Regions from separate parts of the Homo sapiens genome. Here region 2 is linked to region 1. Evidence: fine-mapped expression QTL. Tissue or cell type: fibroblasts. Region 1 holds a variant in brackets; the other region holds the start of a gene. All regions are shown on one strand. Distances are between the middles of the regions.

The links. PIP is the estimated chance that this variant, and not a neighbour inherited with it, causes the effect.
Region 2: KCNQ5 starts here. The variant in region 1 is fine-mapped to the expression of KCNQ5 in fibroblasts (GTEx, PIP 0.97).

What each region holds. Positions count from the first base shown.
Region 1 is chr6:72,860,725-72,868,907 of GRCh38, forward strand. The region is part of intron 1 of KCNQ5 (potassium voltage-gated channel subfamily Q member 5); the gene reads left to right. Among named protein-coding and RNA genes, the nearest start is that of MIR4282, 100 kb to the right of the region's middle. The variant A/G (reference allele first, on the strand shown) is at 4,956.
Region 2 is chr6:72,618,712-72,626,894 of GRCh38, forward strand. KCNQ5 (potassium voltage-gated channel subfamily Q member 5) reads left to right here and starts at 3,353. Exons shown (of 14, transcript NM_019842.4): 1 at 3,353-3,876. The coding sequence starts at 3,479. It overlaps KCNQ5-DT (KCNQ5 divergent transcript), which reads right to left and starts at 3,968. Exons shown (of 3, transcript NR_186827.1): 1 at 3,821-3,968. RefSeq lists enhancers at 1,738-1,927, 4,038-4,989 and silencers at 3,348-3,607, 4,638-4,687.

The sequences.
Region 1 (8,183 bases):
AAGCATTACTGTATTTCATACACTTTGAGGTATGAATATAACTCCTATGATCTTTATTTCTGTTTATTCTTGGTCTTAATGTATTCCTGGCTCATCACTGTCCTTTTAAGGCATGTGTGTGTGTGTGTGTATGTGTGTGTGTGTGTGTGTATGTTTTAGGGGAATAGAGGAAGGGAAAGGAAAAGAAGTCAGACTCTACTCTGAGTAGTTTTCCCTTTGATTGTTATGTTTTGTCCATTTCATAGACATTAGTAATTATATATACAATATTAGAAGCTTTATCTGAAGTGTTCTGTGGATATTAGGGTTGAGAGCTCATATTTTTTAAGATAGCAATGTAAGTATTGCTATCCAGTCCTCTAAAATATTCCCAGACTGATAGGATTAGAAGAGTGGCCACCAGGCAATTTGAAACCCTTCAAGGACGTGATGAGAATGAAGAAGTCCAGCCAAACAGGGAAACAGCATGTGCCTCATGAATTTTCTTTTTTGTTAATAATGACTCAAGAAGAAAACAGGTGGTTGTAACTATGCAGACCAAGCAGCAAAATTCCAAATACAGAAAATAAACCTCAGAGATTCCTTTAAAGGATTATTTAAACACAAACAAATTCCTAGGGGACAGTAACAAAATTGAAATATGTAGAAGAAAGACCAGTGTGGTGTGTATGGAATTAGAGAATGAGTTGTGAGTGTGACCCTCAGAATCCCGGGAGCACATAGGCTTCCAGAGATGAAATGGCCAAAGAAAGAATTCACCAGAATGTCCCTAAGTAAAGGTCTCCAGAAAAAAGTTTCCTTGGAAATTCAGTTCAGATTCCTCCTGACCTTCTGCAAAAGATTCTCCTTAGTGTGTGTCTGGATATCTTCCTCAGAAATGACTTGATTGTAAACAGAGAGAAAAGGAAATTAATGGAGCTTAAGCTTTAGGGCCTCTCACTTGAGCTTCATGGGACCCTGTACCAAATTGTCTGTTGTAATTTTGAATTCTTCTTCTGGAGAAGGCTCCCAAAATGATATATGTTTCGGGCCCCATAAAACCTGGATACATATGTAACTAACCTGCACAATGTGCACATGTACCCTAAAACTTAAAGTATAATAAAAAAAAAAAACCTGGATCCACCCCCAGCTGTCAAGTATAAAAACTCCTTTAAACCAACTAGAGTAAGTCATCTCTCCTGAGGTCTCTAGCTTTTTCTTTCTACCCTTCTCACTGTGTCTGCTCCTTTTTCCTGCCCTCTGCCAGTTTTCTCAGCCTACTCATGACTTCCCGGCCCTACTAAATCTTTAGTACATGTGGTTCTGGCTGGCAGTGGTGCTAAGTCTGGCTCAGACTCTATGTGAACTTTCAAACCAAACTCCCACAGGCAAGTTAACTGACTCCTGTCCTTCTGCCCCAATTCCAAATTCCTTGGAGAGGGACCTGTCTGTCTAGCACAAGCTGGTTGTCACCTGGATCCAGTCAGCTGTAGCTGGGCTAACTGGGGAGGGTCCTGTCATGGGCCCATAGAACTGCTTCTTGGAAAGTGAGAGGGGAAATTCTCTAAGGAGGAGTAAGTGAGGAGGCCATAAATGTCATGTCTACTGTATTTAAAAAGGAAGTTGACTAAGTGTTTTCAATCTGCCAAAGATACACTAAGAGCTGAAGAGGGAGGGGCACTAGCAAATAACTTGCTTCCTCATTATGATTCCCGTAGTGTTCCAAAGCCACTGCTTTCCTGCTGTCTCTTTTTTTAGTACTTTTTAAATCCCTCAGTAAGTTGCTTTCAAAAGATTTTTTCTAATTAACAGAATATGTCATAAGCTCATTCTAGTATTCTACCACCCTTATAATCAAGTTTTGTCCAGTGAGTCCATTAGGCTAGGGGAAAAAACCTAGCCAATGTCTTCCTACTTTTTTATTTATTTATTTATTTTTGAGACAGGGTCTCGCTCTGTCACCTAGGCTGGAGTCCAGTGGTGCAATATTGGCTCATTGCAGCCTCAACCTCCTGAGCTCAAGCAATCCTCCCACCTCACCCTCCCGAATAACTGGGACTACAGGCACTCAGCACCATGCCTGGCTAAGTTTTTAATTTTTTGTACAGATGAAGTCTCACTGTGTTGCCCAGATTCATCTTGAACTCCTGGACTCAAGCAATCCTTCTGCCTCATCATCCCAAAGTGCAGGAATTATAGGTACAAACCACTGCACCGGGCCACCAATGTCTTTTAAATATCTAAAAATTTATAATTGTTTGTTTTTCTCCTTGCACTGTTATTCATAGGAATGTTGCCAAAAAAGAGAAATTGTATTATTTTCCAGAGAAAATAGGCTAAAAACTGGAAGCAGCTTATGGCAGACTAAATGACTCAGTTGCTACTGTGTGTATAAACGTACCCTGTAAAGTGTAGAGGATGCATTTCTCAGCAACAGGTGTGCCTTAAATGTGTTAGATGGGAACATAGGAAAAGTATGGCCCCAGGCTTCTAGGAAAAAAACAGCCTTTTCCTGCCCATACTAAATAGCCACTTAGAGACTAGAGTTTTTCCAGACCCTTACATGTTAATCCTTTTTAACAAGTTACCAGATAGCTGAACACAAACTGGGTCAAGCAAGTCTGTTTCTCAGAAGGCAAGATGTCCCATCCTAACACCATAAATCACACTCACTTTAGAAATACGTTTTTCTTTGATCCAAATGTCTTTTCTTAATAACTCATTCCTAAGATTTCCATTTTCAGATTCCTGTTTTTGCATAAGATTGCATGAAATATTTTTTGCCATTACACACAGTGCATTTTATTGAAAGGACTCTAAAGGGCTTAGGGAAAGGAAAATTTCCCTAAACTGCAAAGAAAGTCAGCTAATCATTCTGAAACATAATAAAAACTAGTTTTTAAAAATAGCTCATGATAGGTAATGGGGAGTAGGTAGACCCAAACAAGATTGGTCAGTTTCTACCTGGACAATAAAGTAAGGCATTAATTTCCTTCAGATATAGGTATTTCTGTAGCAGATATTTTTTAGAATTTTTTTAAAAGTTGTGTAAGGGTGTTTTATTTATCAGAAAAAATAAATGTATTTTGAACTGTTTGAAATGTAATCCAAAAATTACAGCTGAAAACATCAATTATTTAAATTTATGTTACACAAATAATTGTAAGTCTTGTGTACTGGAAGTAAACAATAAAAGTATGAATTTTCTTTTGACCACCCCTTTCCCCTACCAGGGGAATAATGGCTCCATGGCAGAGGCAGTTTGTACCTCAGTCCATATACATCCCCTTCTTATTGGCATTGCAGAGGGATTGCAGCCTCCCCGCGGCAAGTAGCTCAATAACCAAATATTGAAACTGTCTGAGTCTGTACCCTGCTGCCCATGTCATAAATTCTTGTATCTTAAGGTATCAATTTTTTATATGCTTTACTTTTACTTATGCTTTTTATTCCTATGCCCTTTCCCTTGTACTCTACACCTACCTGAAATGCAGCATGCATGCCAGCCATGCCTATATCCCATGAACACTACCTCCAATGCTACCTGACTCTCTACCCTTCCACTTTTCTTTTTATTATCATTAAAGTAATAATGGGCCATTAGTACTACTCAAGACACAAAGCCAAGGAGTTTACAAAAACTAAATTACTAAGTACTGTCCTAGCAGCCTTCCTAACTTAATGCCAGTTCCAAAACGGCAAACTCTTTGCCCAGAAGCAATGTTTGTTCACTGAGAAAATCTGGGTCAGTACATGGCCTTAGTTAAGCCACTTGTTTTTTCTTTATCTCATTTTCCCCCACTGTGGAATTAGCCTGGTTATTGGCAAAACACTCTGATATTTTTATTAAATATTAAAATGTTAGCAGTAGCCAAAGCTTGAGTGAATTTGATTTTATGAAGCCATGCAGAATTATTTGGAGATGCTAGTTTCTCTCAATAATAACATCACTACATAATTTAATTTCATACACACACACACAGGGTCCTAAAAGTCTTAGCACAATTTTAGGCTTGACTAATTTAGAAATATAAGTGCTACAAACTTAAAAAAAAAACTCCACATAATTTGAAAGTTTAACTAGACTTCTTTCTCATTTGTTTACTTTTGTGAATTTTGAATAATAAAATTTTAGTTTTGATTGTTTTTGTTTAAACATTTGCTACTTTCAGTCAGAAAAACTGACATGTATTTCAAGGATATGGGAAAACTAGCATTGTAAGAATTACAGAGCTCTTCACATCTGAGTCAATATTTGTACATTGCTTTAAATATAGTTCATGTCTTTCATCCAGGAAACACTTGTTGAGAACCTTCTACCTGTAAGGCCTACATTACATCAGTTACATTTCTTCATTTAATCCTTACTGCATCTTTGGAGTTAGATATCATAATCCTCACTTGGAAAATGAGGAACTTGAAGTCTAAAGGAGTGAAGTGACTTTACCATGATACTTAGAAATTGTATGTGGAAATCAGGACCTCAATCCAAAATCCTCCAGGTCTGCATCTCAAGTTCTTTCCACACTCTTGCATTATCACTCTCCTTGTTGATGTTCTGCGTATAGACTCTATTTCATTCAAGTGTGGATATATCTAAAAGTCCTCATGAAAATGTATATTGAAAGGCAGTCTGGGCCAAAATACAGAAAATTCATAAACCAAGTACCTCATAGATATAATCTCCTTTATCCAGCATAATTAAAGGAACTAAGCAGAATTAGTGGATTCACTACAGAATATCGAACCTATCTCAGGTCATATAATGGTCCTGTCACCATTCTTCTCTCTGTAAGATTCAGTGCATTATCTCTTTGACAGGCTAATCCCTAGGATGAGCTCTTTTGATCATAAGGGATCCTGAACAGGATGTTTTGCCATCCAGAAAACCAGCACCACTGAGACGCCAGCTGGAGACATGTCACGAAAACTTGGCCCTAATTCCAAAGCCAACAGTGTGTTGAAATTAGGGC[A/G]TATCATTTGCTTAGTTCCTGACTGCATACTTTACAACTGACAACTGAAGATTACTAATAATGTCTTCTACTCATGTGTACCCCTCATCCAGGAGGAATCCAAGTCATTTTATCAGTGTGTAGCAGCCATTTAAGTCTCTGATTATAGAGTGCTTTTAAGTCCTCAGAATCTTTATTGTGGAGCAGCGCTTTTCTGCAGAGAAGGATTCTCCATTAAAGATCTAAACCTTATAAGCACTTCCTGGAACCATACTGCCTGTGTCAACTTGCCTGGTAGACAGACAAACATTTTATTGAACATATACTATATCTTGAGAGCTTTACATTATGTAATCTCAATTAACCCCACAGTACTTTCAAAATAGCTGTTATTAAACCCATTTTTTAAACAGGAATACTAAGACTTAAGTAAAAGTAAAATAGATAACTTGCCCAGAGGTCACATAATATAAAATAGCAGAGGCAAGGTTGAAATCATGTTTGTCTGATTCTGGAGTCTTCATGTTTGCAACTTTATTATGTCCCCTCAGAATTTCCCCATCATGCTTATTCTAGTTTCCTCCGCCATCTCCCTTTTTTTTTTTTTTTTTTTTTGAAACGGTCTCACTCTGGTTGCCCAGGCTGAAGTGCAGCGGTGTGATCTCGGCCCACTGCAGCCTCAACCTCCCAGGCTCAGGTGATCCTCTGACCTCAGCTTCCTAAGTAGTTGGGACTACAGATGCACACCACCATGCCTGGCTAATTTTTTGTATTTAGTAGAGATGGGGGTTTCACAATGTTGCCCAGGCTGGTCTCAAACTCCTAAACTCAAGCAATCCACTCACCTCCACCTCCCAAAGTACTGTGATTACAGACATGAGCGACTGCATCTGGCCCAGCCATCTCCATCTTTATCCTCCTTTATAAGAATCTTAGGCTTATCCAAACAAGCTAAAAGAGATGATACAGTTGTGCGTTTATAGTTAGACACATAGATCTGTCTCCAAACCACACTTAAGTCAAACCCTTTAGTTCATTTCAGTCCCTGCTATACATCCACATCAACAATTAGTTAATTTAAAAGCATGAAAACAGTTTCAGAATTTAGACTGTGACCTAATCTAACCATATTGCCTAAGGACCTTGAACCTCATAACCTCCGTCATTAACATTCTCAACACCATTAAAGATGTAATTAGAATATCTCCTTTAATTTGGAAAACTACATGAACTTCTTAATTTTAACCACCTCCCCTTTATCTGCATGAGCTCAAATTATTTGCTGGCAAAATGTATTTAATTTTTTTTTCTGTCAAGCCCTTATGAATTTAATTGATTAAGCTCTGTCACTGCCACAACTGATATAGGCATATATTGGATATTTGAGAGGCTCACCTATTAGTTTAATAGTTCAGTGATAAGTATATGTGTATACATAGAATTGAAGGAAGATAGTTTGAAATTATGTATGGGAATCAGCATTTGCTCTATGGAAGGAAATAAGTTACTGAATTGTAATCTAACTAAATATATCACAAAAAATTTGCTTAGCTTTTGCTTTCTCAGAGTTTCTCACAGTTTTCTTTATACTCCTCTTTAAAAAAGTAATTGTAAGAAAATACTTTGGTTTTGTTTAATTTGAGAATTATTTAAGTTAGAATACTTGATACCTGAAGCTCAGAGTCTCTCTTGCCAGCCTGTTAACAACTTTCTTTGGTCTTAAGGTGCCTTAAAAGAAACACAGAATGTTGTAGAACAAGGAGAATTATAAATCCACATTGGTGAAACCAACCTGCATTAGTGCTGTGTGTGTTTAGGGCATACTTGAAGAAAAATACAGATAAATGGAAGCATATTCCAAACAGAGCCAACAAGAAGGAGAAGGGATTTTTAAAACTTCACAAAGAGGTATAGTTGAAGGAACTCAAGATGTTTAACCCAAAGAAAAGAAATTGCAGAGGTAATAGAGCAGCTGTTTCCAAATAACTGGAGATTCTGGCTGAGTATGGTGGCTCATGCCTGTAATCCCAACACTTTGGGAGGCTGAGGTGGGAGGGTCACTTGAGGACAGGAGTTAAAGACCAGCCTGAGCAACATGGCAAAACCCCTTCTCTTAAAAAAAAAAAATTAACCAAGTACAGTGGGACATGCCTGTGGTCCTAGCTACTGGGAAGGTCGAGGCAGGAGGATTGCTTGAGCCTCAACACACAAGACTTCAGAGAGGTATGATCAGCCACTGCACTCCAGGCTGGGCAAGAGTGAGACTCTAAAAATAATACTAATAATACTAATACTACTACTACTACTACTACTAATAATAATAATAATAATTGGAGAGTCTTGTGGTGGAAAAGCAATTTAGACCTGTTATTTGAGATTCCAAGGAACAGACCAGGGCCAATCCGTCAGTCACATAGAGTTACATGGACTGCATGTAACTTCATGGGAGTCCTCCACCAGGACTTCCAGACAAGGAGGTAAATGTGGGCTGAAATTTTGCCATGCTCCTATGGCCAAGCACTGTGGCTTGGATTAGGCTGTGGTATGCAGAGTTTCTTTTAAAAAAATTGATCTGTTTAGAAGAGATGCCTTTTTGTAATGTGCCCAAAAGCACTGTGTGTGTTATGTAGACTCTGATTTCATGTTCACAGAATTAAAACATTTCTAATTAGTCATTTCTTTTCATGAGATAAAATCAGCTTCCTCAAAAACTAGTGGCCTTTTGGGTCTCTAAGCCCCAAGAAATTGGATGACGACTTAATAGAAATTTCATTCTAATCATGATACACACAGGCCTATTAACCAGAGGGAGTCTGGGAGTGGCCCAGACCTGAGCCTCAATTCTGGCACTGGCAGTGGTTGTTCAAAGAGTGGACCTAGCTGCAATGGAAGGAAATGAATTCAGGAGACTGCCATATTGCATTCAGTGAGTGTTATGATTGGCAACCGGTGACTCTGCAGTTGCAGCTGGCATCAAGAACCAGGCAAAGGTGACAGTCAGGTAGAGCACAATCATGGGAAAGAGAGCAACCAGTAAGCTCTATGAACAGAGCTAAATGGATGGCAGTCTACATGGTAGCTGAGCTCCCATAACGAGATGGTGTTCTGAGGAGATCTGCGGAAGGTGAGGCAGCCCCCACTTCCTAAGGAAGGTAATGAAAATAGGGATTCAAGTACAAGAAACAAGGTTGAGGGACTGGGGATAAAGTGGGGATGGTTAATGGGTACAAAAATATAGAGATAGAATGA
Region 2 (8,183 bases), 240 kb before region 1:
AAAGTCTTTTTTTTGTGCATCTCTAGCTCATGTATAGAATTTCAAATATTATTATTTCAGAGTACCTTTCAGAAGAATAATACAATGGGATAGAAAACACACTGAGGCCAGGAGCAGTGGCTCACGCCTGTAATCCCAGCACTTTGAGAGGCTGAGGTGGAAGAATTGCTTGAGTTCAGGAGTTGGAGACCAGCCTGGGCAAAACAGCAAGACCCCATCTCCAAAAAAGAAAAAGAAACACACTAAAATAAAATATCTCTAGAAACTATGTTCAGTTGAAACCATATCCATGTAGACTTCAGAAAATGTTTCCAAGGTCATAAATTTCAGGCAAGCATCTTAAGAGAATGAATGAGTAAAAGCAAACACATCTCAAAAGATGGGGAGGGCCAATCAACTCACATACTTTACACTAGCAGTTAACATTTGCCTTTACCTCTTCATAATGCTCTAATGTAATTATAATGCATAGAATATACACTGTTTTACTCACTGCTCAGTATGCCTATCCTCTTTTCTAAATTTGAATTTTAATATTTCAGCAAAACGAACTAATAAAAGGCAGTTTCCTAGCAACGTCTGTATTCAAAGGAACAACAACAAAGCTTAATCGCAAACACCTTATTTTCTCCAAAGTTAATTCCCGTCTTTTGAGGGAAGTTAGCAGGTAGCAAATAAAGCAAGGTGCAAACAGAGGCTCTTGTAGGAGAGGTTGGCACAGACTCACTTGGCTTTTTCTTTCTGGGCATTGAAAGGTAGGAAGGTTAGAACTTCAGCTAAGCCAGTCTTTCCCAATGGTTGCAGTCAGAGATTGATACAAAACCCCAGAACTGTTTGCTATTTTATCCATTCTCTGCTGGAGATGCAGATTGATTGGTGGAAGGAACAGTGAACTAGGAAGCCAGGTTGTTGGATTCCTAGTAACTCTCACACTACCCGCGAAAACTTGAGCAGGCCCTCTTTTTCTGGGCTGTGTATCCAAATGGCGGTTACTCTAGAAGACATAAGTGAAAGGTCCTTCTCAGCAGCTCAAAACGGCTACCAGTAACCGGGTCTTTTTTATTTTTTAATTAAGCTTAAATGGCATTTGCTTAATCAATAATACAGTTTCACTAGAACTAATGCTGCATCCCCAGAAAAGCATCACTTAGAAATTAAACAGCTGGCTGTCTTCCAGGGAAACGTGTCCCTGTGTCCTGCCTTCCTGAGACTTCTTGCCTGCACGCGGGGCCCAGCCGCGCCAGAGAGATGGAAGTGACTTTACCTACCCAGCGAAAGTAGCAGTCTGCAACAAGGAAAACAGCTAAGTTAAGAGGAAGTGGTTTTCATTTTACTGCTTGCAGAAAGGCCAAGATTTTGACGTTTAAAGCGGGCACACGAGTCATTTTAAGTCTCTAGATCTTTCACCCTGAAAGTCCCTGCACAGAAACTCCATAGGGAGTCTAAATATAGCAACAGCACCCCCTCCCGCCCCCTCCGCCTTCAGTCAGGGTCCCGCGCAGCTCTAGGATTGGAGAGCTTACTCCAGGGCGCTCTCTGCATCTGCCTCGAATAGCACCGCACGGAGCAACCTCTCTCGCACCTCCACAGTGCGTGGGTGTGAAGTGTATTAGGGGAAAGCTAGAGAGTGACTCTGGGTGATGGTGCTCGGCTCACAGTCACATGGCGTCGCCGCCAGCTGCACAGAGCTCCCAGCTAGCTTCTGCTGCCCAGAGGCTTGGGGGGAAGGAGGGAGGGAAGCAGGCTCCTGCTGGTGACCAGGAGCAGGCGAGAGGGCTTCACACAAATAATAGTGATAATAAAGAGTAAAAGCAAAGCATTTAAATCGAGCTATTGCAGAAGACAGAAATCAGCTGCCGCGGGCGTGGGTGTGTGTACAGGGTGGGGGAGAATTGGGAAAGTATTTATCTCGGAGGGGCGGAGACAGCTGCAAGAAGACTTTTGTCTTAGCATTGTTTTAGCCTTAGGAAAGGAAAAGGCCCGAAGGAATCCACCTTGCAACTATCTGCTATGTCTTTGTGGTGGAAGCTTAGTTTTGCCTTCAATTTAATTTGATGATTTTCTTTCATATTTGGGGAAGAGCCACTCTGTTGGAAGAAGTCCCCGAGCCTGGCACCCTTCAGTTTTCCCTATGCTGAATGTGAGATTTAAACTGCCTTTTCTTTGTAATACACTGTTTCTGAAGGCCAGAGGCTGCGGCCAGTGGCACCGTGGCCTCTCTCTCCGCCAAGGGCGCATAGGCTTTGGGCCACCCGGGTGCCAGGGGTGGTGGAAGACCCAGTCAGTTGTTCCTTGCAACAGGTCTCTAAGCTTGTATGTTACAACATAAGGTGGGTGGGGTCGGAACCCCGAAAAGCCGGCGTCCTGGACACCCCATCCTCCAGGTGTTCTTTCCCAGACACTGGGTCCTCGCCGCCGCTGCTGAACTTCTCAATCATATGACTTTCTCGGACTTAAATGGAAATTTCTTGACGGAGGGAACTGGGTTTGTTCTCCCAGGCTTCGCGCTGCAGTCAGGCAGAGCCCCGGGGCAGCTCGCTCACCGCGGAGGAGCCACTTTGGAGTTTTACGCCCTTTCCACACCCCACCCATGGACTGGAAAGGATGTTCAGTTACTCGCGAGCTTGTCTGATACTGGGATGGAAAGTCACAGTCCGCAGGCTGGAGTGAGGCGCGGGAAGATGCCTGGTCCTTGCCTCGCGGACTTGGCAGCCGCGTCCTGCGGGTCTGTCCACTGAACTGCTGAGGACTCGCCCGTGTGCGGGGACCCGAGTGCCACTTCCCGGAGCGTTACCTTGCGCTCCAGCCTCCAGGCTAGATAATACCTGGAAGGCAGGGCAGGGCTGTTCCCGCTCTCACCCCTTGCGGAAGGATGGCAGGATCCGGCGCAGCGACGTAGCAGCGGGAGGGCACAGCGACCTGCATCTCCAGTTTCTCCTCAGGACACAAGGCTGACTTCACCTTCCGGACAGCTGCAAAGCCCCTGCCAGAACCAAACCGAACTCGCGCCTCGGAGAGGGGCTTCTGGGGCCGTTTCGCTGCAGGGCGTGGGGAGTGGAGAGAGGGAAGGGGAAGCCTGGGGCTGGGTGTGCGCGCGTGGGAGCGCGCCTCGGAGCGCCCCGCACTCCCCCACTCTATCCCCGGGGGCAGTTTGGGAAGGAGGGAGTGGTAGTCGCGGGAATGAGGGAGCAAGAGAAACCCTCTCAAAGTGACGCCCCAAACAGGTCCGGATTTAGAATTCGAAGCTAAAGGCTGTTAGAAATTGGGACTCCTCGGCCTCCTCTGCAGCCCCTCCTTTCCCGCCCCGAAGCCCGGGCGGTTTGCTGGCTGCCTGCTTCCCCGCCCCCGGCTCAGAGGTCTCTGGCTGGCGGGCGCCCCGTCGGCCGCCGGCTTCCTCCTTGAAACCCGCCGGCGCACATGAGGCCGCTGCCCCCGCCGCAGGCGCTGGCGGCCCCCTCGCGGTGCCCGTGGTGATGCCATGCCCCGCCACCACGCGGGAGGAGAGGAGGGCGGCGCCGCCGGGCTCTGGGTGAAGAGCGGCGCAGCGGCGGCGGCGGCGGGCGGGGGGCGCTTGGGCAGCGGCATGAAGGATGTGGAGTCCGGCCGGGGCAGGGTGCTGCTGAACTCGGCAGCCGCCAGGGGCGACGGCCTGCTACTGCTGGGCACCCGCGCGGCCACGCTCGGTGGCGGCGGCGGTGGCCTGAGGGAGAGCCGCCGGGGCAAGCAGGGGGCCCGGATGAGCCTGCTGGGGAAGCCGCTCTCTTACACGAGTAGCCAGAGCTGCCGGCGCAACGTCAAGTACCGGCGGGTGCAGAACTACCTGTACAACGTGCTGGAGAGACCCCGCGGCTGGGCGTTCATCTACCACGCTTTCGTGTGAGTACCCGCGCCCCCTGCTATGCCCGCTGCAGGGGACCACTGTCCCTGGCCCCCTGGGGCGTGCTCCGCGCTCGCGCCCTTGGGCCCCCGCGCGCGTGCACACGTGGTGGCTTTTATTTCTTCGCACGTGTTCGTGGTCTTCCTTCTGGAGCCTCTCCCCTCCCCCAGCCCCACTTCTCTCATCTCTACAGCTTGAACCTTTTCCCCGAGGACACCCAATGAACTGCCCGGTAGCTTCAGGCTCCCGGGGCGAGAGCCAGGCAGACGCGGGACTTAGGCTGCGCGGATAATTGGGAGCAATTAGGTCCCAAGATACGTAAACTTCAACCGAACGGGGCGCCCGGGAGCTAGGGAATGCAAAGGGAGGACAGGCGCCCGTGTGAGGCTTGAGAGTATACTGGAGAGGTTAGGAGGTGATGGCGGGGTAGGACGGGGAGAAGTGAGGGGGCATCGAGGGCTAGGTCCTCAGTCCTAGGGGCGGAGTAGGGGAAGCTGCTACTTGGAGAGAGCTGCTAGGTTTTAAGCGCGCCCGGAAACACGCCTCGCCACCACCCAGCCACCACCAACGGAAAATCTGTCAGTGCATGTAGCCCTTCCTGCCACGGAGAAGGTGGCCAAGGTCTAGAGGAGGCCAGCAGGCCAGGCGAAGCAACGCTCCCGCGCTGCAGGGGGCGGGGAGGCAGCGGGGAACCTGGGGCGCAGGAACGCGGGCGGAGGTGCGATAGCAGAAGCGCAAATGGGTCGCCTCTGACAGAGATCGGGCAGTGGGTTAAGTCCCCGTTTGTGGCGCGGAGTCAAAGAGTGTGTGTGTGTGTGTGTGTGTGTGTGTGTGTGTGTAGTAAGCCTTCTCCATCTAGCAGAGAATGCTTAATGAGAAAATGATTGGAAGCAAATGTTTATTTTTCCCTTAGGCATTTAAAACCTTTCAGTGGCTTTAAAGTTTACTACTGTTTTTCCCACAAAGTCCATTCATTCAGTCTCCTATTAGAGTTACGTTTATCTGGGCATTTTAAGGTTGTTTTTATAATGTTACCTCGTGTCTAATTCTTTTTTTCTTCCTCTTCTCCTTTTGCTTCCTCTTTTTTTAGTATTATTATTTCTGCTTCTTTTTTGTTAAGATGAAATATAAAGACATCAACCTTAGAAGACCAGTAGAGAAAGTTGCAGATACTCGCTGATACATTCCTTGTTTCCTAGTAAAATAAGTTTTGAGCACACGGACTAGGTTTCTTTTAGAAATAAGTTATGTCATCCATACATAGCTCTCTCCTGGGATGCAGAATTAGCATCAACACCAGAAACGTGTTTTGAAATAACATGGAAGAAGGGCTGGTTTTGTAACTAGGTGAACCTGGAATTCAACCACATAGGAGTCAGGAAATTGGTGGAGTCTACAATCTGTGGGGCTCTGGTGTCTGGAAAATTTTACAGTCCCAGATTGACGTGAACATGTAGCATTAGGCAGAATATTCCAGCCAACTTTCCGTTTTACAATGCACACAAGGAGAACGGTTGTGTTGCATCATCATTACATCAAAAAGTATAACTTTTATGTAAAATTCACATTTATTTAAATGTGGTTAGGATAATGATAGAGAAATGCAACTGACACTTTTCTCGTTAATCTCCTCTGACCTGATATGTAATTAAACATATTACTTAATAAGCCTGGTAAATTATTTTGACCTGTCAGAATATACTAAAATAATTTAGCAATTATAATGCTCAATTTGGTAGCAAATATATATACTGTATAGGTTATGATTTTTTCTTTACAACAGTATGCTCAAAACATTTCTAGCCTTTCTTTTTTTTATATTATGCATTGTATATTCAGAGAGAGTTAAAGAAAGCCTTGGTTGGTGCACATACTTTGCATCTCCTAACTTGTTCTTGAACATGAATGAGAACTTGCAACACAACATTTTCTTTTCCATGTGTTGGTGTTAACAGGTTTGTATGGGCTTACAGAATTTTAAAACATTAATAAATGATTTTTCCAAAGGTTCAAGGTTGGATACTTCTCTGTCTACCAGGCTTTATCAGTCTAGCAGTATCTTTAGTAGTAGACAGGAAATAAATTGTGTACTTAATAGATGTAGCAAATGTGAAGTTTTGATTATACATTTTAGAGTCTGAAACTGCAATGCCTCAGCAATTAGATAGGGGTGCTATATCCACATTAGCACAAAGAGGGAATGGATAGTATCATCTTTTGGGAGGATTGTGCACAACTAAGCAGACCCTGAGGAAAGAGGCCATCTTTGGCAGTTGCTGCTTGTGATTTTAAATGAGCTTTAGAATAGCCAGACTTTACACATTACATTCATTTATCGAAGTTGCTTTATGCTGTAAGTTTAACTAGACCCCAATAAAATAATTTCGAGAGAGGTGTAACTAACTAATTCCCTGCCAGCTTGGGAATCCCCAAATCTTATTTTAATAACAGTATTTGTAGCATATTAAGGTTCTTGCCAAGAACAAGTGCACCGTGATTAATGAGGTACTTCAGGGGTGAATTTACTTGGTCAACCAGTGTTTTCACTGCCAAGAAACAAGAAAAGCATGTTTAAAGTTATGCTTGAGGTAAATATAAATTTCTATTATTTATGCAAAAATAATTATTATAATGGTATTTTAGGGTTATAAAATGTCTTTTCAAGAGTACATATCCTAGCCTATTGATAGGATGGCTGGACAGAGCAAGGGATGACCTACTTCAAATATTTTCCCTTAAACTTTATAAATTAGTGGAGATTAGGAGATCCTTGCCCTTACTATTCTTTAGGATTTACCTGACAGCCATATTTCCTATCTTCAACTTTTCTTCATTTTATTAGTGTGCTATTCAAACATGAGGTGGCTCATTTCCCTGAATGTTGTTTGTCCCTTTTTAATTCCTCCTTGTTTAAGGAAAATTTTGAAGAATAATGAGGGTAGTAGGGGGACACAGGATGAGGCTTCATATATAAATTTGCGTTGATGCAGCAAATGTGGTTCTGAGAAGTTACATGGGAAACGGTGTTGCAGATACATGTAATTGATCACTTTGCCTAATGTATCTTTGCCTGACTTAATGCTATGGATGTGAATTATAGATATTAAACAAGGAGACAAGAAGAAGTCACCCAAGCTAGGAGCTCTGAAGTCATCCTTTTTCTCATACTTACTCCTTCTGGTCAGGCAAAAGGTCATTAACTATTGTTTGTTTACTTTATAGGTATTTTTCAAATACATTCCCTTTTCTTCTTTACCACTTCTATTCCATTCTGTTTCTTACCTCTCCATTAGATGATTTGTAATATTCTCCTGCCTGATCATCTGGTTTCTGTTCTCAGCCTTCTCTCTGCTCTAACATCATAGTATTGTTCGTAAAATGCAAATCTTATCATATCATCCCCTTGCCTAAAATATTTCCATGACTCTTATCATCTACTCCTTCATCTATGTATCCATCTACAATTATTAGAGTGTGTAATATGTGCTAATTCCCAAATTAACAAGGCAAAGGCCTCCACTCTGGAGGAAGGAAAAGACGCCAGCAAGGGACTACTACAAGCCTGTGAACAAGTGTGAAACAATGTTATTGGTGTGCTTAGAGAGAGAGGTTACAAAGTGACATGAGAAAAGAAAAAGAAGTGAAGCCCGGGCAGAAAAGTCAGCACAGGCTTCAAAGGGGAAGTGAGGTGTAAGCTGAGTTTCCACAAATGAGTAGTTAATTTTCAGGTGGGCATAGCAGGAGGGAATGAACAATCTTGACAGAGAAAACAGCTTGAGTAAAGATATGGAGTTGTGAATCAGCACAGTAATTCTAGGTACTGTTAAGTATTTTCAGGGTGAGGAAAGCCACAAGAAAGGGTGGTAGAGCAAAAGGCAAATCACCAATCTGTTGGATAGATTCTGATGCTGACCATAGAATCTTGTATTTATCCTGTAGGCAGTAGTGGTCATTGAATGGTGATAATCAGGGGAATGATATAATCAGATATAAATTTTGGAAAGATCTGCCTTTCATTAGTTCAGCAAATAAATTGGAGTGCAAAATGGAGTCAATATGGCCTATAAGGAGATGATACCAATTGTGAGAATTTTCCATTCATTGTTGCATTCATTTATTCATAAACTTATTCTGTGAAATGTCTGTTGACTATCGACTATATGCTGTGGATCATACTAGAAAGGTGAGAGATGATTGCCTAAGGAACTAAGGCAGTAACTGTGGAGATGAGAAGGAGGAGTTTAACCAAAGAAATGTTAAGGAGATAAAATTTGCAGATTGTTTTCACCAGTCTGACATGTGGTAT